Linked DNA regions of Homo sapiens. The protein of the gene in region 5 purifies or fractionates together with the protein of the main gene of each other region. This does not show direct contact. Each region holds a gene or a part of one and is shown on either strand. Other genes may lie near its edges.

Evidence for each region.
Region 1: the proteins of LIAS (region 5) and NFU1 purify together in Homo sapiens (co-immunoprecipitation; one large-scale study listed by IntAct). This does not show direct contact.
Region 2: the proteins of LIAS (region 5) and NDUFAF5 purify together in Homo sapiens (affinity purification with mass spectrometry; one large-scale study listed by BioGRID and IntAct). This does not show direct contact.
Region 3: the proteins of LIAS (region 5) and ALDH1A3 purify together in Homo sapiens (affinity purification with mass spectrometry; one large-scale study listed by BioGRID and IntAct). This does not show direct contact.
Region 4: the proteins of LIAS (region 5) and CTSV purify together in Homo sapiens (affinity purification with mass spectrometry; one large-scale study listed by BioGRID and IntAct). This does not show direct contact.
Region 6: the proteins of LIAS (region 5) and POLE purify together in Homo sapiens (co-immunoprecipitation; one large-scale study listed by IntAct). This does not show direct contact.
Region 7: the proteins of LIAS (region 5) and HMGN4 purify together in Homo sapiens (co-immunoprecipitation; one large-scale study listed by IntAct). This does not show direct contact.

The regions. Positions count from the first base shown.
Region 1 is NC_000002.12:69,416,936-69,420,435, reverse strand, and holds part of NFU1 (NFU1 iron-sulfur cluster scaffold homolog, mitochondrial), read left to right. Parts: intron 1-831; coding exon 832-898; intron 899-3,500. UniProt on the Homo sapiens protein: Iron-sulfur cluster scaffold protein which can assemble [4Fe-4S] clusters and deliver them to target proteins.
Region 2 is NC_000020.11:13,802,028-13,805,527, forward strand, and holds part of NDUFAF5 (arginine-hydroxylase NDUFAF5, mitochondrial), read left to right. Parts: intron 1-1,122; coding exon of another isoform or gene 1,123-1,305; exon of another isoform or gene 1,306-1,389; intron 1,390-3,500. UniProt on the Homo sapiens protein: Arginine hydroxylase that mediates hydroxylation of 'Arg-111' of NDUFS7 and is involved in the assembly of mitochondrial NADH:ubiquinone oxidoreductase complex (complex I, MT-ND1) at early stages. May also have methyltransferase activity.
Region 3 is NC_000015.10:100,913,979-100,917,126, forward strand, and holds the end of ALDH1A3 (retinaldehyde dehydrogenase 3), read left to right. Parts: exon of another isoform or gene 1-722; coding exon 723-795; 3' UTR 796-2,648; downstream 2,649-3,148. UniProt on the Homo sapiens protein: Catalyzes the NAD-dependent oxidation of aldehyde substrates, such as all-trans-retinal and all-trans-13,14-dihydroretinal, to their corresponding carboxylic acids, all-trans-retinoate and all-trans-13,14-dihydroretinoate, respectively.
Region 4 is NC_000009.12:97,029,177-97,032,659, reverse strand, and holds the end of CTSV (cathepsin L2 preproprotein), read left to right. Parts: 3' UTR 1-2,983; downstream 2,984-3,483. UniProt on the Homo sapiens protein: Cysteine protease. May have an important role in corneal physiology.
Region 5 is NC_000004.12:39,462,056-39,465,555, forward strand, and holds part of LIAS (lipoyl synthase, mitochondrial isoform 1 precursor), read left to right. Parts: intron 1-140; coding exon 141-234; intron 235-1,469; coding exon 1,470-1,550; coding exon of another isoform or gene 1,551-1,586; exon of another isoform or gene 1,587-1,759; intron 1,760-2,990; coding exon 2,991-3,147; intron 3,148-3,229; coding exon 3,230-3,287; intron 3,288-3,500. UniProt on the Homo sapiens protein: Catalyzes the radical-mediated insertion of two sulfur atoms into the C-6 and C-8 positions of the octanoyl moiety bound to the lipoyl domains of lipoate-dependent enzymes, thereby converting the octanoylated domains into lipoylated derivatives.
Region 6 is NC_000012.12:132,670,343-132,673,842, reverse strand, and holds part of POLE (DNA polymerase epsilon catalytic subunit A), read left to right. Parts: intron 1-135; coding exon 136-268; intron 269-565; coding exon 566-679; intron 680-1,003; coding exon 1,004-1,216; intron 1,217-1,520; coding exon 1,521-1,628; intron 1,629-3,500. UniProt on the Homo sapiens protein: Catalytic component of the DNA polymerase epsilon complex. Participates in chromosomal DNA replication.
Region 7 is NC_000006.12:26,537,087-26,541,165, forward strand, and holds the start of HMGN4 (high mobility group nucleosome-binding domain-containing protein 4), read left to right. Parts: upstream 1-1,279; 5' UTR 1,280-1,415; intron 1,416-4,079.

The DNA.
Region 1 (3,500 bases), on a different chromosome or scaffold from region 5:
GTTCATATTTTGTATTAAAAAAGTAAAAGTAAAAAAGCCCCAATTAATTCAGTTATAGATTAGTTAGAGATTATTTCTGTCAGATGTTCAGTTGGCAAAATCTCTTTTCAAGTTAGTCTTTTGAAAATAGTCTGTTTAGGCTGGGTGTGGTGGCTCATGCCTGTAATCCCAGCACTTTGGGAGGTGGGTGGATCACCTGAGGTCAGGAGTTGAGACCAGCCTGGGCAACATGGTGAAACCCCATCTCTACTAAAATACAAAAATTAGCTGGGCGTGGTGGTGGGCGCCTGTAATCCCAGCTACTTGGGAGGCTGAGGCAGGAAAATTGCTTGAACCCAGGAGGCGGAGGTTGCAATGAGCCAAGATCTCACCACTGCACTCCAGCCTGGGGGACAGAGGGTGACTCCGTCTCAAAAGAGAAAAAAAAAAAAATAGTCTGTTTAGTGCTCAGTACAGTGCCTGGCACTTAGTAGGTGTCAAATATTGGTTGAATGAATGATTGATAGTATAGATATAGCAGTCTATTCATTCACCAGGTGATGGACATTTCCATATTTTTCTGTATGTGTGGCTATTTTAAATGAAGCTGCTATGAAGATTTATGTACAAGTCTTTGTGGAGCACGAGTTTTTATTTCTTTTGGGTAAATAACTAGGAGTGGGATTGCTAAATCGTAGAGTAGGAATATAAAACAAAATTGGCCATGAGTTGATCATTGTTAAAGCTGCAAAGGATATGTGGAGAATTTTTTACTTTTCTCTACTTTTGTGTATGTTTAAACTTTTCCATAATCAAGCATTTTAATATCTCTTATTTTTTCTTTTTTTGCAGGCAGTTATTTAGGATTGAAGGAGTAAAAAGTGTCTTCTTTGGACCAGATTTCATCACTGTCACAAAGGTAAACATAGGATTATATAAAATAAGACTTGAAATACTCTTCATTTTTTTCTGAGTCCAATGCCTCTCTCTCCAACATTTCCATTCTTTCTGTTCTTTAATTTTTATATTTTATTTTTGAGACAGGGTCTTACTCTCTTGTCCTCTAAATGTCACAAGAATCAAGCGAAATATGCTATGTTTTTCTTTTTCTTTTCTTTTTCTTTTTTTTGAGATGAAGTCTTGCTCTTGTCCCCCAGGCTGGAGTGTGATGGTGCGATCTTGGCTCACTGCCACCTCTGCCTCCCAGGTCCAAGTGATTCTCCTGCCTCGGCGCCCCCCCCCGCCACCCTGAGTAGCTGGGATTGCAGGCGCCTGCCACCATGCCCAGCTAATTTTTATATTTTTAGTAGAGACAGGGTTTCGCCATGTTGGCCAGGCTGGTCTAGAACTCCCGACCTCAGGTGATCCACCCGCCTCGGCCTCCAAATTGCTGGGATTACAGGCGTGAGCCACCACGCCTATAAAAAATATGCTATGTTTTTCAACAGTCAAGGCAGTATCTGCTAGAAAGGGCTGTTCCATTTTTGATGTCTACTAGATTAATGGGACATGAACTATTTAAATTTGAACTATGTATCCTTTTAAATCTGTTAATTGACATATATCCACGGAACTTAAATCACTTGCCTGATAGTGTGTGAAAATCAAAAATATTTATTAAACTCCCCTTAAGCAAATTGAAAGGATTAGTCTGAGCTCTTTATGTCCTTAAAAGTGGACATACTGGGGGCCGGGTGTGGTGGCTCACGCCTGTAATCCCAGCACTTTGGGAGGCCGAGGTGGGCAGATCATGAGGTCAGGAGATCAAAACCATTCTGGCTAACATGGTGAAACCCCGTCTCTACTAAAAATACAAAAAAAAAGTAGCCGGGCATGGTGGCGGGCGCCTGTAGCCCCAGCTACTCAGGAGGCTGAAGCAGGAGAATGGCGTGAACCCGGGAGGCGGAGCTTGCAGTGAGCGGAGATCGGGCCACTGCACTCCAGCCTGGGCGACAGAGCGAGACTGCATCTCAAAAAAGAAAAAAAGGGGACATACTGGGTTAGTGACATGTTAAATCTAGTCATCTAGTCCAGTATTCTCTTGCGGCTATTTATTTAGAGACAAAGTCTCACTCCACACCCAGGTCAGAGTGCAGTGGCATGATCTCAGCTCACTGCAGCCTAAGCCTCTTGAGCTTAAGCAGTCATCTCACCTCAGCCTCCCTAGTAGCTGGGACTATACGTGCATACCACCATGTCCAACTAATTTTTGTATTTTTTGTAGAGATAGGGTTTCGCCATGTTTTCCAGGCTGGTCTCAAATTTCTGAGCTCAAACAATCTGCTCACCTCGGCCTCCCAAAGTGCTGGGATTACCGGTGTGAACCACCACGTCCAGCCCCCCATTCTTCAGTTTTCTTTCTTCCATATTTTTTAAGGAGAAGAAGGGATGAACATTTATTTAATATATTCAATGTCGGATATGGCCCTAGTGCTTTACATATGTTATCTAATTCTTACAACTAGTTATTTTATAAGTGGGAAATTATATATTTATTTTTTAAAGTTATTTAGTTCTTTTACGTATAGCCTATGCTATATAAAAATTTTTATAGGTAAAAATGTGATTATATCTTAAAGGGTTTTGGTTTTTTTTTTTTTCCTATTTTTCTTGATTAGATTTAGTAAGTCATCTTTTAGCTCTCTTACTTTCATTATTTAGTTACCCTATTTGAAATTGCCCTAGCTCTACAATTTTTTCTTAAGTGAAATGACATAACCAATAGATAATATCCCAAGTTAGGGTATATGTTGATACACATATATGTATGTGTGTGTGTATATCTATCTATCTACACATACATATAGATGGGATCTTGCTCTGTTTCCCCAGGCTGGAATACAGTAGTGCGATCATGGGTCACTGCAACCACTAACTCCCAGGCTCAAGCGATCCTGCTGTCTCAGCTTCCCGAGTAGCTGGGACTACAGGTGCATGCCACTATGCCCAGCTAATTTTTTTTTTATTTTTTTTTATTGTAGAGACAGTGTCCTTCTATGTTGCCCAGGCTGGTCTCAAACTCCTGGGCTCATGCAATCCTTCTGTCTCGGCCTCCCAAAATGTTGGGATTACAGGTGTGAGCCACCACGCCTGGCCCACGTTGGTATTTAATAGACGGAATACTGGATTTATTTTGTTTTCTTCCAGTAATGTTTCTCATCATGGACTATCACATTTTACTGAATGTCTTCAGCAATCGCCTGTTTCTATTTCTGATTTCCAGTTGATAATTAGACTTCTTTATGCATCATTTGTGTTATTTTTTTCTAAATATATATGTATATTTGCAGCTTATATGCTGCCCTTTTTTTCTCATTCAGACAACTTTAGAATATTTTTTCTTTTTATTACCAATATTTTCCTATTTAGTAGAGCCTGCTATTTACTGAAGATCTGAGGTAACACTCTGATTTGTTTTCCAAATAATTTATTACCTACAACTAGTTTCCATTCCCAATCACTAAGATATTTCACTAGTTTTACTTTTATAACCTTAGCAGTCCCCATTTATCTCACCTTTT
Region 2 (3,500 bases), on a different chromosome or scaffold from region 5:
AGAAAAGGGGATAAGTAGGGGAACCTGTAATATTACCACCAATAACTACCCCCAAACAGTGCCATATGAAGCAGAAATGAGAGAATGTGTGTTCTCAAGGCCTAGGGTGAGATCAAGGCTAAAGAAGGTAGGACAGGGTGCTGTACTCCATTAGGGCTAGAGAAATCTCGAAAGAAGACCCATGGGCAATCAGTGAGTAATAAGCATGAAGTCAGCATGGTACGGTGACGGGGTAGGACAGTAGGACTTTGTTCTCCGACAGGAGTAACTTGGATCCTTACCCTATTTCTTTACTAGATAGGGAAATTTGAGTAACTTACCTTTTTGAGCATTTATTTCTTTTAAAAATGCAAATGTGTGGCTGGGTGCGGTGGCTCACGCCTGTAATCCCAGCACTTTGGGAGGCCGAGGCAAGTGGATCATCTGAGATCAGGAGTTTGAAACCAACTTGGCCAACGTAGTGAAACCCCGTCTCTACTAAAAATACAAAAAATCAGCGAATTGTGGTGATGCATGCCTGTAATCCCAGCTACTCTGGAGGCTGAGGCAGGAGAATTGCTTGAACCCGGGAGGCGGAGGTTGCAGTGAGCTGAGATCACGCCATTGCACTCCAGCCTGGGCAACAAGAGTGAAATTCCCGTCTCAAAAAAAAAAAAAAAAAAAGCAAATGTTACTCACCTCACCCTTTAAAGAGATAAAGGGTGTGAAGTACCAGGACCATGGTAGATGCTCAGCTTACATTAGCTCCTGCCTTCCTCTTTCCCCATCACTCTACTCCCAGCATTTTTCTAGAACTAGGCTTCCAAGAGACAGCCATCTGGAGAGAATGATTGCCCTCTTCTTCCTCCCTCCACTAACAGTCTTTCTAAAGGATGTCATTACTCTCTTCAGAGATCAGTCCAGTAGACTTAATATGAATTTCCAAACCCCTCAGGCCTAGAAACATCCCTAAACCTGATTAGTGGAAATAGGAATTTCTTGATGAAGAAAGCATCTTGCTACATAATTAGAGATGATAAGCTTAAACGCTAAAATAGCTGTTTGGCATGATTTTGTGTGAATATATTCATGAAATCAACCAACCAAAAATAGATTGTGTCATATCCTTCCTTGTTTTTATAGAAGCAAGGGGCATGGGCAAGCAGGGCCCCTGATGTTGGAAAGGAGCCTCCAGGGAGGGAAGAATTAACAGGCTGGAGGACTAGGCTGGGAACTGAAGAGAACCCCGGAGGCTTCACACCTGTGACTAGTGTTGATCTTTTGTTAACTTTTAAATGGCCTGAGTCCATAGAAACTGCATCCTGAGAGGTTGCTCGGCTAGAAAGCGGAAAACCGCTTCACATGAGTGCTCTACTTTGTAATGAAAATAAACACTATTAATACAGGCAATTGTACACTGAAGGATCATTGTATTTATATTTGTAATTGTATAAGTAACACAAATATATTTTGGTTGTAACTATTAAGCTATACAGATAAAGCGAAAGTCTGTCATTCCCCCTTAATCCTAAAAATGCTTAGCTCTCTCTTGAGAGTAAGAGTTCTCAAAATTTTGGTCTCAGGACCCCACTACACACTGAAAAGTAATGAAGAAACTTTTAAAGGGCTTTTTGTATAGTGAATTAACATCTGTCAGTATTCACTATATTAGACATTAAAACTGAATTTGTTTTCGTATTCATTTAAAGCTAACAATAATATACCTATTACTTGTTAACATAAATGACCCTTTTTAATAAAAAATAACTATATTTTCTTTTAATTTTTTTTTTGGGGGGGGGACAGTTTCACTCTGCCACCCAGGCTGAAGTGCAATGGCACGGTCTTGGCCCACCACAATCTCTCCCTCCCAGGTTCAAGTGATTCCCCTGCCTCAGCCTCCCGAGCAGCTGGGATTACAGGCACGTGCCACCACGCCCCATTAATTTTTGTATTTTTAGTAGAGATGGGGTTTCACCATGTTGGCCAGTCTGGTCTCGAACTCTTGACCTCAAGTGATCCGCCCACCTCAGCCTCCCAAAGTGCTGGGATTACAGGCATGAGCCGCTGCGTCTGGCCATATTTTCTAAAACAAAAATAATTGAAAGGGAAGAATGACATTGCTTCACATTTTTGCCAGTTAATGTGCACCTTAGTAACAGAGCTAGATTCTCATGTCTGTTTCTGCATTCAAGTTTCTTGTTACACCATGTGTCATGTCATGTCTCCTCTAAAATAACCCATCGTAGAATAAGAGGTAAAAAGCCAAATAGTATCTTGGTATTATTATGAAAATAATTTTGACTTTGTGGACCCCCAAAAAAGTCCTAGGGACCCCAGGACTCTCCAAACCACACTTGGAGAACTACTGTCCTAGAGGTAGCTACTATTATCACTTTAGTGTGTAACCTTCCAGACTTTTTTTTTTTTAACAAGGACTACTTTATATAGACAGTCATATGTATTCACACATTTCTGAAACTTTTTTTATTAACAGTATATGTATTTCCAATATACTGTTAATAGTTTTCTAAATTGGTATGGATATATTTGCACTCCTTAATTTCCGCATATTATTTCCTAGTATGAATGTACCACAGTTTTACTTAACTATTTACCTGTGAATGACCTTTAGGTTTGTTCTGATTTTTTGCCAATAGTAGCAATGCTGCAGTGAATATCCTTCTATACAAATTCATTTATGTATTCAGTCTTGCAACAAACATTTACTGAGTACCTTCTGTGTGTCTGGTACTATCCTAGGTACTTCAAATATAGCAGTGAACAAAACAGAAATCCCTGCGTGGTGTTTTTGGGTTTATAGCAGGCCTGTTGGTAAACTTTAGACCGTTCAATAATACTGGGATGTTGTACACAAAATTTGTGGTGGTGGTGTTCATAAATGGAGGAAAGTACCCATGGTTTTCATCAGATCTTGAGAGAGCTAATATAACTAAAAATAGATTAGGAACCAGTGATTTAAAGCCTTTTTGATAATATTTATTTTACTTATAATATGGAAAAAATTTCCTTTACAGTCTACCCTCTTGAGAATCGTCTCCTATATTGCTGTGTCACCAACCTATCATTGAGATGAAAAAAGAATCTCCGGGAATGTAAAGCCTCTAAAAAGTATAGGAGGTGTAGGGCTGGGATGGTGTGGCGATGTGTAGTGCACATTTTCATGAGGTGATGTTAAAAAATTTATACGAGGTCATACAGGTTAGTCAGCAATATTACAGGACTCAAAAGTTATTGCCCATTACGAAAAAAATGGGATTTCTGCTAATCACCAGAAGAAAGTTAAATTATGTGAACTACACATGGTTTTCTGTGGTTATAAAGAATGAGTTTTAGAAAGATTTCTACTAAAAATGTTTAACCTGATGTTAAAATGTTTAAAAGCCTACATTTCTATTAATTGGGAAATATAATTCAGAATACTATCCATATTCTCTAAAAATGAGCCTAATGACTCATACTTTAATATAATATAAAAATATTGGTGTAGAATCTTCTTT
Region 3 (3,148 bases), on a different chromosome or scaffold from region 5:
GGAAGGGAAGCTACCCTGAAGACGGCCCATGGTGCCAGGGAAGGATCACCTGAGCCCTGCAAGATTTAAAGAAAGGAACTATACCAAGGATGTGAACCCAAAAGCTGTGGCCTCCCCATGTCCACTCTGTGCTAACGTCTGCTTCTCTCATGCCCCCTAGGCTGGCCTCACTGCCTGACAGCTGGTCCCCAGCTGTGCACTCTGAGGCCAGCTTCAGGCCCTTGGTGTTCTTCCCACTGGTCCTCTGGCCACATCCCCAGCCAATAGCTTTGGGCCTCTGCCTCTTCTGTCTCCTCTTCAAGCAGCTCCCAATTGCCATCTAAAAGTTATCAACCCAGTGTAATTTCTGCCCCTCCCTCGTTCACAGACACCCCACCGTCCACCAGGCTCTCTCGTTTTGCTCTCTATTGCCACCCCAGGGAATTCACCTCTTTACTTTTTTTAAAATCCCCTTCATTCTCTAAAGGGAAACCCTTAGTCCTGGCCATTTCAAAAGCATCACACAGAAGAAGACCTTGATATTTACATTTAAGTCACATATGCAGCTACTGACACTTACTAGTGCTGTTATAGTCCTGGCTATTATTCCATGAGGTCGTCACATTTTAACCTTTTGCATAAGCCTCCAACGGCCTGATGGAATGATGAAGCCTCAGAACAGTTTCTACACAATGGCTAAGGGATGTACCCATTTTGAATTTTCCTCTTTTCTGTGATCACAGAGGTGAATACGCTTTGGCCGAATACACAGAAGTGAAAACTGTCACCATCAAACTTGGCGACAAGAACCCCTGAAGGAAAGGCGGGGCTCCTTCCTCAAACATCGGACGGCGGAATGTGGCAGATGAAATGTGCTGGAGGAAAAAAATGACATTTCTGACCTTCCCGGGACACATTCTTCTGGAGGCTTTACATCTACTGGAGTTGAATGATTGCTGTTTTCCTCTCACTCTCCTGTTTATTCACCAGACTGGGGATGCCTATAGGTTGTCTGTGAAATCGCAGTCCTGCCTGGGGAGGGAGCTGTTGGCCATTTCTGTGTTTCCCTTTAAACCAGATCCTGGAGACAGTGAGATACTCAGGGCGTTGTTAACAGGGAGTGGTATTTGAAGTGTCCAGCAGTTGCTTGAAATGCTTTGCCGAATCTGACTCCAGTAAGAATGTGGGAAAACCCCCTGTGTGTTCTGCAAGCAGGGCTCTTGCACCAGCGGTCTCCTCAGGGTGGACCTGCTTACAGAGCAAGCCACGCCTCTTTCCGAGGTGAAGGTGGGACCATTCCTTGGGAAAGGATTCACAGTAAGGTTTTTTGGTTTTTGTTTTTTGTTTTCTTGTTTTTAAAAAAAGGATTTCACAGTGAGAAAGTTTTGGTTAGTGCATACCGTGGAAGGGCGCCAGGGTCTTTGTGGATTGCATGTTGACATTGACCGTGAGATTCGGCTTCAAACCAATACTGCCTTTGGAATATGACAGAATCAATAGCCCAGAGAGCTTAGTCAAAGACGATATCACGGTCTACCTTAACCAAGGCACTTTCTTAAGCAGAAAATATTGTTGAGGTTACCTTTGCTGCTAAAGATCCAATCTTCTAACGCCACAACAGCATAGCAAATCCTAGGATAATTCACCTCCTCATTTGACAAATCAGAGCTGTAATTCGCTTTAACAAATTACGCATTTCTATCACGTTCACTAACAGCTTATGATAAGTCTGTGTAGTCTTCCTTTTCTCCAGTTCTGTTACCCAATTTAGATTAGTAAAGCGTACACAACTGGAAAGACTGCTGTAATAACACAGCCTTGTTATTTTTAAGTCCTATTTTGATATTAATTTCTGATTAGTTAGTAAATAACACCTGGATTCTATGGAGGACCTCGGTCTTCATCCAAGTGGCCTGAGTATTTCACTGGCAGGTTGTGAATTTTTCTTTTCCTCTTTGGGGATCCAAATGATGATGTGCAATTTCATGTTTTAACTTGGGAAACTGAAAGTGTTCCCATATAGCTTCAAAAACAAAAACAAATGTGTTATCCGACGGATACTTTTATGGTTACTAACTAGTACTTTCCTAATTGGGAAAGTAGTGCTTAAGTTTGCAAATTAAGTTGGGGAGGGCAATAATAAAATGAGGGCCCGTAACAGAACCAGTGTGTGTATAACGAAAACCATGTATAAAATGGGCCTATCACCCTTGTCAGAGATATAAATTACCACATTTGCCTTCCCTTCATCAGCTAACACTTATCACTTATACTACCAATAACTTGTTAAATCAGGATTTGGCTTCATACACTGAATTTTCAGTATTTTATCTCAAGTAGATATAGACACTAACCTTGATAGTGATACGTTAGAGGGTTCCTATTCTTCCATTGTACGATAATGTCTTTAATATGAAATGCTACATTATTTATAATTGGTAGAGTTATTGTATCTTTTTATAGTTGTAAGTACACAGAGGTGGTATATTTAAACTTCTGTAATATACTGTATTTAGAAATGGAAATATATATAGTGTTAGGTTTCACTTCTTTTAAGGTTTACCCCTGTGGTGTGGTTTAAAAATCTATAGGCCTGGGAATTCCGATCCTAGCTGCAGATCGCATCCCACAATGCGAGAATGATAAAATAAAATTGGATATTTGAGAAACATTGTGCTTTTTCATTTAAAGACCAAAGTCATTTGAATTCGATGGCAGGCCTTTCTCTTTCTGAGACCTGTACGAAATGGCTGATATTAAAGCAGGATCAATAATGTAAGCATAAAATTACATTTGCTCAGTCAGTCGGGCCCAGTGCTTTGCCTGAGTGTGAAACCCATTTCTGTGGGCTTGGGGGTTGACCAGGCAAGGAGCTGGGCCTCAGAGGTTCCATGTCATAGCTGGCTGAGTTTCAGCTGTTATCTAAGCTGCCTGAGTCTCCTTTTATCATAAAGTAGTGATGGTGTCAGTGTGCGAAATGGTGGGGAGGACTGCATGAGGATTGACGGACAGCATTGTGCCCCTGACGGTGAGCACAAGTGTCTGTTTTTGTCACCTTTTCCTCTAGAGAAATCTAGAGGATCTAGAGAAAGGATCAATTTGGGTTTTACTGACCTCAAGTTTCTAAAGCTTCTAACCAAGAAGCCTCAATCACCCCGTTGTGAGCTGA
Region 4 (3,483 bases), on a different chromosome or scaffold from region 5:
ATAAAGGTGGGCCTTTTTTTAATGCATTGGCTTTTTGTGTAGTCAGGAAATATAATTAAGCTCTGAAATAATAACTTCATGTGCCAATGGTATGTTAGGAGAAAGATGCTAGCAGAAAGCTGGCTTCCTGGCTCTTGAGTAGTTATAAAAATACAGACTTTATATCAGCTGCCCAGTTACTGTGTGTTACCCAACTCCTGAATCTACCAAAATTTGATAAACAATTTGGAAGGACAAACCTACATTTTTTTTTTTTATGAGACGGAGTCTCTCTCACTCTGTCACCAAGGCTGGAGTGCAGTAGTGTGATCTCAGCTCACTGCAACCTCTGCCTCCCGGGTTTAAGCAATTCTCTGCCTCAGCCTCCCGAGTAGCTGGGATTACAGGCGCGTGCCACCACGCCTAGTGTATTTTTAGTAGAGAGAGGGTTTCACCATCTTGGCCAGGCTGGTCTTGAACTCTCGACCTCGTGATCCACCTGCCTCAGCCTCCCAAAGTGTTGGGATTACAGATGTGAGCCACTGCGCCCAGCCCCTAAATTGTTTTAGTAAAGAAGAAAGCAGTTGACTTTTTAGAAAAGGAAATGTCTTCTTCCTTTGACACATAACCTCAAGATGGTTAGGTTACGTGATAAAAAGTGAAGCTGCTTGTTACTGGAGCCTCTCTGAATTGCTGGTGACCACTTTGCAGTCTGAGGAAGACGCAGGTGCAAGTAAGTTACCAAGGGTATTTTGTTTTCATTCCAAGTCTCTGATGACATATTCCACCTAGCTCTTCTAGAAAAGCTTATTTGTTAACTAGTGTTAGCAAAAATAAATGGTGTGGTTAACAAATCTCAGGCATTTGACAGTAGCTGGAGAAATTTGTTCAAGGTCCACAAGAGATGAGGCTGGGCTACAAAAAGAGGCCTCTGGCCGAAGATGGATAAGAGATCACAAGTGAAAGGTCAGAAGTCACTAGGCCAGACTCTGGCTACCTAATCCCTGAATTAAAAATAAACTCAAAATGGGGGGAAAAAGGCTAAGCATATAGTTACACAGGTAGTAAATACAAATAAAACGATATTTTTGCATATTTAAAATACTGGAAGAAAGTACACCAAACTTGTGGGTGAATTATGGGTGGTTATTTAACTCGTTTAGTGAAAAGCATGTATTTTTATGAGCAGGAGAAAATAGTAAAGATATACCCACATTCTGCAGGCTAAAGGAGAGCCCTGTGTGTGTTTTAAAAGCCCATGTTTCCAGTCAAATAAAAAATTACCGGGGATGAGCTGGTGAAATTTAATCGAAAGGTGATCCATTGTGAATGCAATGGGAGGGAAGGGGCATGTGGGACTGTGTATCCCAAAAACCCTTTGATAGCCTATGTCCACAGCCATCTCTGGAAAATCCAGTCTACCATATTCAGTCTTGAGTTTTCTCTGAGAAAGGATTCCTTCGTCTTTGCAGCAGCAGGCTAAGTTGGTACTCTCCACAGATTCTTGGAACAACAACCCAGGCTCTAAGGAAACATCTAGGCACTAAATTGAATGAAAGAGTGATGGCTTTTTATTCAAATAAAAAAATTTCAAATCTGTCAAAACAGCACCCCTCGGAAAACTAAAATAGAGATATTTCAAGATTTTATAATTTTCAAAGACCTTTGAAATATTTTAAACTTGTGAAAAGTTACAAACCTGATGTGTTGTCTAAAAGCGTTTTTCAAACAAGCCAGTAGACTTGAAAAATCTAGTCTGAAGCACAGACTTAACCAATATTTGCTGGGGATATGCCCCCAAATCTGGCCATAAACAAAATCTCTGCAGTACTGTGACAGGTTCATGATGGCCATGACGCCATGCTGAAGGTTTACCGGAATGAGAGCAAGGAACACCTGGACCACCCAGGGCGGGAAAACGGCTTAAAGGCGTTCCTAAACTACAAACAATAGCATGAGCGATCTGTGCCTTAAGGACATGTTCCTGCTGCAGATAACTAGCCAGACCCCATGCCTTTGTTTCGTTTGGGAAGGAATACTTTTAGTTAATCTATAATCTATAGAAACAATGTTTATCACTGGCTTGCTGTCAATAAACATGGGTAAATCTCTGTTCGGGGCTCTCAGCTCTGAAAGCTGTGAGTCCCCTGATTTCCCACTCTGCATGCTATATTTCTGGGTGTGTGTCTTTAATTTCTCTAGCGCCTCTGGGTTAGGGTCTCCATGACCAAGCTGGTCTCGGCAAATATTTCCTATACTCGAACATCTAAATTGTTTGTTTTCTTACTTGAATTGCAAAGGAAGTAAGGAAGGGTGAGATAGAAATCACTGAGCATATTAAGAGGGAGGAGTTTGCTGATGTGGGAGTGTAGTTATGACACTTGGGCATCATACTAGAGGCTATGGACTTAGCAATAAGGAAACATCCACTCAGCCCTATGTGTGGTTCATGTGTATGTTTTGCCTATGAAAGTTGAAACTGTTTTCTAAATGTTATTTCCTTTTGTAACTGATAAAATTTCTAAAAAGCAAAGAAGAAACTTTTCTGTATTAAAAATAACAAACATTAGTAAATGTATATATACAGTCATGTGTTGCTTAATGATGGGGATACATTCTGAGAAATGTGTCTTGGGTGATTTCATCGTGACGTGAACATCATAGAGTACACTGACACAAACCTAGATGGTATAGCCTATTACACACCTAGGCTATATGGTACAGCCTGTTGCTCCTAAGCTACGCACCTGTGCAACACATCACTGTGCTGAGTACTGTACACAGTTGTAACACAGTGGTAAGTATTCGTGTATCTGAACAGAAAAGTACAGTAAAAATATAGGATCATAATTTTATGGGACCACTATCATATATGCAGTCACTGACCAAAACATCACACAGCACATGACTTGTGTGTATGGATATCTCAATTGTAAACAATTTCACAAATGTTCATTATCTCTTTTTAAGTAAGTTAATAAGTAAAACTATTACTAAGCTGCAACGTGTTCTTGTTCTGCAGTGTATTTATTCATTTGGATACAGTTGATTCTTGAACAATGCAGAGGTTAGGGGCACCAACCCTTGTGCAGCCAAATATTTGCATATAACTTTAATTCCTCCAGAACTTTTCTACTAATAGCCTACTGTTGACTGGAAGCCTTGCTGATAACATAAACAGCCAATTAACACATATTTTGTGTATGTATTGTAAAATACTGTATGCTTACAGTAAGCTAGAGGAAAAAATGTCATTAAGAAAATCATGGCCAGGCACGGTGGCTCACACTTGTAATCCCAGTGCTTTGAGAGGCCGAGGCAGGCAGATCACGAGGTCATGAGATCAAGACCATCCTGCCTAACATGGTGAAACCCCATCTCTAATAAAAATACAAAAACAAAATTAGCCGGGCGTTGTGGCCGACACCTGTATTCGCAGCTACTCAGGAGACTGAGGCGGGAGAATGGCGTGAACCCGGGAGGCGGAGCTTGCGGTGAGCCAAG
Region 5 (3,500 bases):
TGACAGAAATTATAAGAGTTATTCTAAGGTTATAGAAAAAATTATTAACTAGGAATTGTAATAGAAGAAATTAACTTCAAAGCTGTGTAATTATTTGGCAGCATATTTGTTAATAGATAGTTATGTTTGGCTTTCCTTAGGTTAAGACTACCTCCATGGCTAAAGACAGAGATTCCCATGGGGAAAAATTACAATAAACTGAAAAATACTTTGCGGAATTTAAATCTCCATACAGTAAGTTGTCAAAGTGTAAACTATCCCTCTTCACCAAAAGCCATGTTTCTACGTTTATATAACTTAAAAATTATTAATAAATATATAAATAATAGCAAAGAAAGTAAATATGTTAAGTGATACATTACTACCAGGAATGGAAATATATTTAGAATCATTTTTCCGGCAAACAAAGAGATTTTTTGCCCTACGAGTTTGGAAACAAGGCTTTGTTTGTTTTATATTGCAAATTAGATATATGATTTGTTGGAAAGAATATAAAATTAAATATGAAGGTATGTCACATACGCAATGCCATATATAAACCATACTCCTTTACCTTTAACTCTTCAGTATATAATCTTTCAGACTTTTTTATTTGCACATATGAAGTATATACATTCGTAAAGTTTTTAATTTAAAAATTGGATTTTGGCCAGGTGCGGTGGCTCACACCTATAATTCCAGTACTTCGGAAGGCCGAGGTGGGAGGATCACCTGAGGTCAGGAGTTCAAGACCAGCCTGGCCAACATGGTGAAACCCCGTCTCTAATAAAATACAAAAAAAATTAGCTGGGCGTGGTGGCGTGAGCCTGTAGTCCCAGCTACTTGGAAGTCTGAGGCTGGAGAATCACTTGAGCTTGGGAGGTGGAGATTGCAGTGAGCTGAGATGGCACCACTGCACTCCAGCCTGGACGACAGTGAGACTCCATCTTAAAAAATAAAAATTCAAGTCTGTCCATTCTTACATAATTATGTAAGGGAGTACACCTCTATAGGACATGCTCACTACACTCTAATCTTAATATAGAGTTGGGCAGTTTAACAGCCTTTTTTTTTTTTTTTTGAAGACAGGGCATTGCTCTGTTGTCTATGCTGGAGTGCTGTGGTACAATTGCCTTGACCTCCCAGGCTCAAGTGATCCTCTCTCCTCAGCCTTCTGAGTAGCTGGGAGTATAGGTGCACATTACCACGCCTGACTAACTTTGATTTTTTGTAGAGGCAGGATTTCACTATGTTGCCCAGACTGGTTCCAGACTCCTGGGCTCAAGCAATCCTCCTGCCTCAGCTTCCCAAAGTGCTGGAATTACAGGCATGAGCCAGCGCACTTGGTCTTAACAGCATTTTTGAATAGTGAATGTCTTCAAAAATATGTTGTAAACAATGAGAAGTTTAAAATGTCTAATCACAGTCACCAACTGTTTAGTTGGTGGATATTGTCAACCTAATGGTGTTCCATTTCCTTTTGCATACAGGTATGTGAGGAAGCTCGATGTCCCAATATTGGAGAGTGTTGGGGAGGTGGAGAATATGCCACCGCCACAGCCACGATCATGGTAGGGCCAGCCTCAACCTCTATGGCTTTAGTCTAGAAACTGAAAGGGACTATTTTGTGTCTTCCTCCTAAAAATGTGCATTATGAATCTCTGGTCAGATTTTTCATTACATTTGCATTTATGAAAAATATTAAGAAAAAACCTGATGGAATAATCCAACCTGTTGTAATCTCACCCTTCTCTGAATAAATCTATTATTGGTTCTTTCATTTATGTGATAGTTAATCACGTGCTGCCTTGAGATACCTCTCCTATCAATGTTTGGAAACATTATTCATGATTGCTTAGCTTTTTATGTGTTTTCTGTTTAACATATTCAACAAGAAGGAGCTGTGCTTTCTGTTTTTACATCCATAGAGACCTGTACATTGATCTGTCATATATTTTATGTCTTTTAAAATCATCTTTTTTTATTATTGAATAGATATAAAAGTATCTTCATAGGCCGGGTGCAGTGGCTCATGCCTGTAAGCTCAGCATTTTGGGAGGCCAAGGCAGGCAGATCATTTGAACCCAGGAGTTCAAGACCAGCTGGGCAACATGGTAAAACCTTGTCCATACAAAAAAAAAGTTTTTAAAAATTAGCTGGGCATGGTGGCACTTGCCTGTATACCCAACTTCTGAGGAGGCTGAGGTGGGAGGATCACTTGAGCCCAACAGGTTGAGGCTGCAGTAAGACATGATCATGCCACTGCGTCCCAGCCTAGACTACAGAGCAAGACCCTGTTTCAAAAAAAAAAAAAAAAAGTATCTTATAAACTGTGTAAGTTATAAAGAATAACACAACAGACACCCTCATACCTCCAGTTTGAGATTAAAACGTTAGCATTATCTTTGAATACCCCTCTGTACCCCCTAAACTGTATATTAGAATCCCATTTTTCAGTTGTGTTTCTATTTTGTTTTAAGAAATGGGGGTCTCACTCTGTCACCCAGGCTGGAGTGCAGTGGCACAGTCATAGCTCACTGCAGCCTCGAACTCCTAGGCTCAAGTAATCCTCCTATCTCAGCCTCCCTAAATACCTGAGGCTACAGGTACATGCCACTACACTAGCTAATTTTTAGAGACAGGGTCTCACCGTGTTGCCCATGCTGGTCTCAGACTCTTAACAATCCTCTCACCTCAGCTTCCAGAGTAGCTGGGATTACAGGAGCAAGCCACTGCACCCTGCTTTGTTTTTAAATTTAAATTTTGCGTCCTTTCCTGATCCCATCCCCTTTCCCCTGAACACTATTCTTATTGCTGAGTTTATTATTTCCCTTTTTAGTTTTATCACATATATTTATGTTCCTTGACTATCATTTAGTTTTGAATGTTTCAAATTTCTTATAAACAGAACCAAACTGTATGCATTCTTTGCAACTTGCTTTATTCTCTCAACATTATGTCCTTAAGGGTCATCTGTCTATTTCATTTAAATTGTAACATTTCTATTCTAGTTGATGGGTGACACATGTACAAGAGGTTGCAGATTTTGTTCTGTTAAGACTGCAAGAAATCCTCCTCCACTGGATGCCAGTGAGCCCTACAATACTGCAAAGGCAATTGCAGAATGGGGTCTGGATTATGTTGTCCTGACATCTGTGGATCGAGATGGTTAGTGTGTCATCATGGCCTCTACCAGAAACTGGCTCTAAATGATGACATCATCCTGAGCAGTGGATTCTTTTGTTTCTAGATATGCCTGATGGGGGAGCTGAACACATTGCAAAGACCGTATCATATTTAAAGGAAAGGTACTTATTTTTGCATTTGTGTAATTTAAGGACCTTTTTGGACCCATATGAGTTAAGTTTAAGTTCATTACCTTGAAACAGGGATTATTCACTTTTTGAGGAGTTTCATAGTTTTCTGATAATTCACTGGAAATTATGTACACATTTCTTTGGAAAAAGCATATTTGTATGTACAGATACATATTTGCAGAGAATTTTAGGGGCTCAGTGACA
Region 6 (3,500 bases), on a different chromosome or scaffold from region 5:
GGCCTTGGTGTGAGGCTCCTGGGTGCCTGTTAGGAACTTGCATCTGTCTGTGTGGTGCCCAGTTTTGCCAGTTCTCAGGGGTTCCCGGGCTGCATGTTAGAATCATCCTGGCTTCTGTTCTCATTCTCCTTCCAGGTGGGTGAAGAGGGACAGTTACCTTCCTGTGGGCAGTCATAATCTCAAGGCGGCCGCCAAGGCCAAGCTAGGCTATGATCCCGTGGAGCTAGACCCGGAGGACATGTGCCGGATGGCCACGGAGCAGCCCCAGGCACGTAAGCCACATCCCGGCTGCCCCTGCTGCCGTGTGCACGCATCCAGATGGCCACGGAGCAGCCCCAGGCATGTGAGCCACATCCCGGCTCCCCCTGCTGCCGTGTGCACGCATGTATGCCAGCCCGCTCCACCCAGCAGGCTGTGTCTCCGGGACACACGTGTTTTGTCCTGTGCCGGTCTCCTTACTGTGTGTGCGGCAGGCTGGTCAGGCCAGGCTTTGCTTTCTGTGCTTCACACTTGACCCTGGGCTCTTGATTTTTGATGGCCCTGCTCTCTGGCGTTCTCTCCTCAGACTCTGGCCACGTATTCTGTGTCAGATGCTGTCGCCACTTACTACCTGTACATGAAGTACGTCCACCCATTCATCTTTGCTCTGTGCACCATTATTCCCATGGAGCCCGACGAGGTGAGCATTATCTGTCCTGTCGGCACCCTGGCCTCCTCAGCCCTTGCCCCATTCCAAATGCACTGGAGCTGAATGGAGGTGGATGTCCCAGGAGTGCTGGCACCAGAGGCGGCAGTAGAATTCTGGTGTGTGACGTCAGGGATGTCCTTTGGGAATTCTCTGGCCCTGGTGTGAGGAAGAAACCACAGGAGGCAGAATTTGCAGCCATTTACCACGAGGTTTTCTCTCCTTTCACACTGAAGTTCAGCTTAGGTTCCTGGACTTTGCCTGCAAGTCAGGGCCTTTGGTGTTGCTTTTGGCTGGAAGCCTTGGTTTCTCTTGCAGGTGCTGCGGAAGGGCTCTGGCACTCTGTGTGAGGCCTTGCTGATGGTGCAGGCCTTCCACGCCAACATCATCTTCCCCAACAAGCAAGAGCAGGAGTTCAATAAGCTGACGGACGACGGACACGTGCTGGACTCTGAGACCTACGTCGGGGGCCACGTGGAGGCCCTCGAGTCTGGGGTTTTCCGCAGCGATATCCCTTGCCGGTTTAGGATGGTGTGCTTCTTCCCTGGGATTCAGATTCTTCCCACTCTTGTGCTGTGGTAGGACCCAGAAGCTGCAGGGGCTGAAATAAAGCCCCTTCTCCCCATCCTGTCCCACGGCCCCTCACCGGGTGTGGCTTCTCTGGCCCAGCACCCCCCGGGGGCTTCTTTAGGGCAGTGCACTGCAGATTGTGCACATGAGTCCTTCCGGAGCTTTCTCGGGCACAACCTGCCACGTGCAGCCACAGCGTCAAACCTGAGGCAGGCTAGTGTGGGTGTGTTTCCCCTCTGACCCCGTCGTCTCACTGTTGTGCTAGAATCCTGCCGCCTTTGACTTCCTGCTGCAGCGGGTTGAGAAGACCTTGCGCCACGCCCTTGAGGAAGAGGAGAAAGTGCCTGTGGAGCAAGTCACCAACTTTGAAGAGGTAACCATCAGGGAGGCAGGAAGAGCCAGTCTGTGTTTGGCGCCTTCTTCACAGACCACGTCTTTCAGCAGCACGTTTATTGTGCACCTGCTGCGTGTGGTGCTGTGGACGGATGACACAGGGTCTCTGGTGGGACAGGGCAGTCATGGTTGTGACGTGTGATGCTGTCACAAGGTCGGAGGGCTTCATGAGAGGTGGGGTGTGAGCTGCTCCTGAAATGCAGTAACATGGAAGGTGGGTCCTGGTGGGATGTATCCCGTGTCCTGTTTTAAAGCATTAGGACTTTATTTTATAGGCACTGGGGAGCCATTGGAGGTTTTAAATTTTATTTACTTTTTGTTGTTGAGACTTAAAAATGACAGTAAATTCCTACAAATGACAGGATTAGTGACTGTAAAATCTGTTTACATAATGGTTAGAAAGCACACTTACAAAGTGTGTTATGTGACTGGAGAGGGAGACACCAGTTCTTCTCTGATCCCTGTTCCTCAGGACATGGCACATCTCAGGTCTTTTTTTTTTTTTTTTTTTTTTTTCCCTTTTTGAGATGGAGTCTCGCTGTTGTTGGCCTGGGCTGGAGTGCAATGGCATGAGTTTGGCTCACTGCAACCTCTGCCTCCCGGGTTCAAGCAATTCTCCTGCCTCAGGCTCCCCAGTAGCTGGGATTACAGGCATCCGCCACCACACCTGGCTAGTTTTTGTATTTTTAGTAGAGACAGGGTTTCACCATGTTGTCCAGTCTGATCTTGAACTCCTGACCTTGTGATCCGCCTGCCTTGGCCTCCCAAAGTGCTGGGATTACAGGTGTGAGGCACCGCGCCTGGCCTATCTCAGGTCTTTATGTCAGGCACTGTGCAGCACTACATCATGTTCAGTGAGGTTGCTGGTTTAGAGTTTTTAACAGTTTTCACATTGATGCCAAGAAACTTTTTTTTTTTTTTTTTTTTTTTTTGAGACGGAGTCTTGCTCTGTCACCCACACTGGAGTGCAATGGCATGATCTCGGCTTACTGCAACCTTTGCCTCCTGGGTTCAAGCGATTCTCCTGTCTCAGCCTCCTGAGTAGCTGGGATTACAGGTGCCCACCACCATGCCTGGCCAATTTTTGTATTTTTAGTAGAGATGAGGTTTCACCACGTTGGCCAGGCTGCTTTCGAACTCCTGACTGTAAGTGATCTGCCCACCTCAGCCTCCCAAAGTGCTGGGATTACAGGTGTGAGCCACTGTGCCTGCCCTCAAGAAACATCTTGTAATAGATTCACTAGTCAAAATTTAAACAAGAATATGTGTACACTCTTGGCAAGCTGTGAAGCACTGTTTGGCTATTGTCAGCCACATCCATTATTATACTTCAGGGAACTCTTATGAACCGATCAGGAAGAGAGCCTTGTCTGAATAACAAATAGGAGTTAAAGAATGTCGGCCATGGCCGGGCACGGTGGCTCACGCCTGTAATTCCAGCACTTTGGGAGGCCGAGGTGGATCACGAGGTCAGGAGATTGAGACCATCCTGGCTAACACGGTGAAACCCCGTCTCTACTAAAAAAATATAAAAAAATTAGCCGGGCGTGGTGGCGGGCACCTGTAGTCCCAGCTACTCGGGAGGCTGAGGCAGGAGAATAGCAAGAACCCGGGAGGCGGAGCTTGCAGTGAGCCGAGATCGCTCCACTACACTCCAGCCTGGGCAGCCTGGAATCCCAGCATTTTGGGAGGCTGAGGCGGGTGGATCACCTGAGGTCAGGAGTTTGAGACCAGCCTGGCCAACATGGAGAAACCCCGTCTCTACTAAAAATACAAAAAAAAATTACCCAGGCGTGGTGGCGAGACGTCTCAGAATCTGAGACAGAGTTTCACTCTTGTTGCCCAGGCTGGA
Region 7 (4,079 bases), on a different chromosome or scaffold from region 5:
TTATTATTATTTTTCTCCAATCGCTTATCACTATTATTTTGTTTATTTAATGCTTTATTATCCGCTTCCGCCACTGCCATGTAATCTTGAGGGCAAGGGTCTCTCATGTTTTCTTCACCGTTATCTGCAGTGCCTTGAACACTAATACTGGTTGAATGAACGAACGCATTAATGGAGCGGTGATATTGGGGCAGAGAGGATGCAGGGCTTGCTTTTCACCGCCATTTTTCAGCCGGCAGAGACAGACCGAGAAAGGAATGAAGGCCACGGGGCGTGTGCAGAAGTAGCTACCAGAGAGTCCATGCGCTGCGAGCCTGGACCAGCGGGCAAACGCGGCTTACAGGCGTTCACCCAGATATTACGGGTACAACCTAGTTTCTTATGAAATACCTCGCCCCTAAGGTACGCGCAGGGCCAGTGGCGCAATGGATAACGCGTCTGACTACGGATCAGAAGATTCCAGGTTCGACTCCTGGCTGGCTCGGTGTAAGCAGGGTCGTTTTACAACTTTCTGACTCCGCAGGAGTAAGGAAATTCCTGCAAGATAAATTTGCCTGGAAGACTCAGAAGCAAGAGGGGCAGCTCCCGACAACATATGGGGTTATCATTTCTTTGCGGAGCATTCTGCCACTGACCACGTGGTAACGCCAACTACGCCAGAGAAACGCTCGCCCTACCCAAGTTGTGCCCAGCCTTGCCTGGCCATTTTGGCCGAAGAACGAAGGACCGTTCAGAGATTAAATTAAAGTCTCTATTGTGTTCTTCCCTATTCAGTCATTTGTAGAATAAATTCTATGGCTTCAGTTTGAACACTGGAGGGGCTGGGTCTGAGCTTTTCATTGGTTTTTCTGGTTTGAGAGGTCGGTACAGAGACGCACGCGCACATCAGCAAAACACGCACTTGGAACGAAGAAACACGGAACTAGGCAGGAAGAACTATTTACTCTGAAAAATAAGCCCTTAGTGGGTTTCCGTAGTGTAGTGGTTATCACGTTCGCCTCACACGCGAAAGGTCCCCGGTTCGAAACCGGGCGGAAACACGTTTTTTTTTCCTCATCTTACTACGAAATTCTTCCAGTGTGTATCTTTTAAAGACTTTTTCAGGCTGTCATAAATTTCCTGTCTTCTTGTCTTGCTAGATCGGGGCAGCAGTGCTTAGGGCGGGCCTCAGAGGCTCACACACGTATCGCCAGGGGGAGAACCAGCTCTCTCCGGCTTGGACTCGGGGCGGCTCCCCGCCTGCAGCCCCGGAAGCGCATCCTCACCTTCCCTCGCCTTCCTGTTCCTGGCGGAGCCGGGCTCCGCTCGTCTTCTCTGTCTTAGGGCTGGTGCTGGCCCTGCCCACGCCTAGGGCTCCGGCGCGTCACGGGCCTCAGCTGGGATTCCCGCGCCCCTCGGACGGCCACGAGACTCGGGTAAGTGCCTCACAGACTTTGTGCGCTACCCCGGAAAATGAGGGGCGTGGTGGGGGGGGTCCCGCCGCCCTCCGTATACTTAGGACCCTCCTGCCAGCTGGCCCCGGTCATGATTAGGGGCCTTGGGCCCCGTCAGCCCCGCCTGTCTTCCCGTCTCCAGAGTAATCGCAGCATCTCTCCTGAGCTCCGAGTGTGAATCCCTGGGAAAAGCTGAATCCAGAGGTGGGGTCACAGAGAGCCGCAGGCCCGACCGGGATGAGAAGTCCTAATCGGCGTTCTAGGGGCGTTCTAAAAGAAGGAAGGAAGGGGATTTGAAAGGATTGCTCCCGCAGGGCTGTGGCCTTAAAGAGGTGGTGACTGGCAGGTTGGACTGACCTGCCGTGGGCTCTCCCTTCCTCCCCAATTTACCTTCGAGAAACCCTCGTTGAGGAGACACCCAAGGGCTGAGTCCTCCTCCACTTTGACCTTTTGCTATTCCATCACAAAGAAAAAATGGATCCCAAAGTTAAGAAATGGACCAGCACTTGTTTAGAATCAGGACTGGTGCCTTGGTGTTTGGCCTCTTACCTCTGCCACATGGCTTGCTTACAAGTTAATCGGATTAATCAAACGCTTTTATGAGAAAGTTTTGTTGTGTCACCTGGCAGCCTCGGGTGTTCCCTAAGAGGGATTTCTTTCTTAGATGTATTACTACTTTTTCTAGGGATTAGCCAAGCCTAGCCTCTCAGATCATATTGCTCCAGGTTCCCTCAAATGACTAATAAGAATGTGATGTGTTTGTTTTTGTTTGTTTGTTTTTGAGACGGAGTCTCACTCTGTTGTCCAGGCTGGGGTGCAATGGTGCGATCTCGCTCACTGCAACCTCCACCTCGATTCTTGTGCCTCAGGCTCCCGAGCAGCTGGGACTACAGGTGTGTAACACTACACCCGGATAATTTTTGTATTTTTAGTTGGAGACGGAGTTTCACCATATTGGCCAGGCTGGTCTCAAACTCCTGACCTCAAGTGATCCGCCCGCCTCGGCCTCCCAAAGTGCTGAGATTACAGGCATGAGCCACCGCGCCCAACCGAATGTGATATTTTTATGACCATGAGAAAAGAAGGGCTGCATTCTTTGGTGGGTCCGCAAAATTAAAAAAAAAAAAAAAAAAAGAAAAGAAAAGAAAGAAAAGGACAATGTTAATGAGCTGTTTTCTTTTTATCATTTTCTTAAACAGGCTGCTTGGGTAGACGTTGACTTGAAAGGTCCATTCTTTTGTCATCTTGCTGGTTCCCTTAACAAGACAACACCTTGGCTAGCAAGATAATATCTTGGTTAGCAAGACAATAAACTTGGGCATGTGCTCAACAGCAACCTGTCTAATACATTTTCATTTAAAATCCCCTCTGTACTACTCAGAAATATAAGCAAGTTATTATGGTGCCCAGAAAGGGGGCAAAGGTTCCAGGGTCCTAGGAGATGACAAGGATTTATCCTCTTCATCTTTCTCCGATCCCAGTTAGCAGGAATACTTTAGCCTGGAAGGTGAGTGTGCCCCTAACCAACCTTTACAGATGGGTGACTGTTTGGGAGCTTATGGCTCACTCCTTCTCTTTAAAGCAGATGCATTCTGGCAAGCTGCAGCAGCAAACCTACCCTTTTAGACACCCTGCGTTTTCTCATCTTTCCTTTCTACCCCTGCATCTCCCAGTCTCTCTCACTTAACCTCCGTGGAAACTCATGCTGCGTCTCTAATACTTTGGAAGATGAAGAACAAACGCCCTGGAGAGTGACTGACACCATGTGACCTCTTGCTTCTGTAGCACACTGCATCTTGCCTGTGAATCTTTTTTTTTTTTTCTTTTTTTTTTGAGACCGGGTCTTGCTCTGTCACCCAGGCTGGAGTGCAGTGGCACAATCTTGGCTCACTGCAACCTCCGCCTCCCAGGCTCAAGTGATTCTCCTGCCTCAGCTTCCCAAGTAGTTGGGACTATAGGCATATGCCACCACACCCAGCTAATTTTTGTATTTTTAGTAGAAATGGGTTTCACCATGTTGGCCAGGCTGGTCTTGAACTCCTGACCTCAAGTGATCCACCTGCCTCCACCTCCCAAAGTGCTGGGATTACAGGCGTGAGCCACCACGCCCAGCATTTGCCTGTGCATTTTTTATTGTATTTTAATTATATCCTTTATTCTCTCCTTCCTAAGCTTGGTGTTCTTAACTTTCTTCCAGATCTTCCCTCCAACCCCCAAACACGATCTCTCCTTAAGTAAGAGGCAGGGAGGGAGAGGGGAACCTTCTGATTTCGGGGTGGGATTGAGGCTAAAACCCAAGTTAGAACTACCTCCCAGAAACCCAGTTCCGTATCCATCGAGTGATCAAAAAGATGCTGCTAAAATGTGCCTTGTGTTTGCTAGGGATGAGGTGAAAATGAGTATTGAATGAGGTGGCATTTTGGTCCATGGATTTGCTTGCTATGAAAGAGAAAAAACATGGAAAAATATATTTTGAGAGCTGGGTGAGACCCCCAAATTAATCTAATCCAAGATGTTTCCCTAGTCATTACATTCCTTTTTTTTTGAAACAGAATCTCACTCTATTGCCCAGGCTGGAGTGCAGTGGCGCAATCTCGGCTCACTGCAACCTCTGCCTCCCGGGTTCAAGCAATTCTCCTGCCTCAG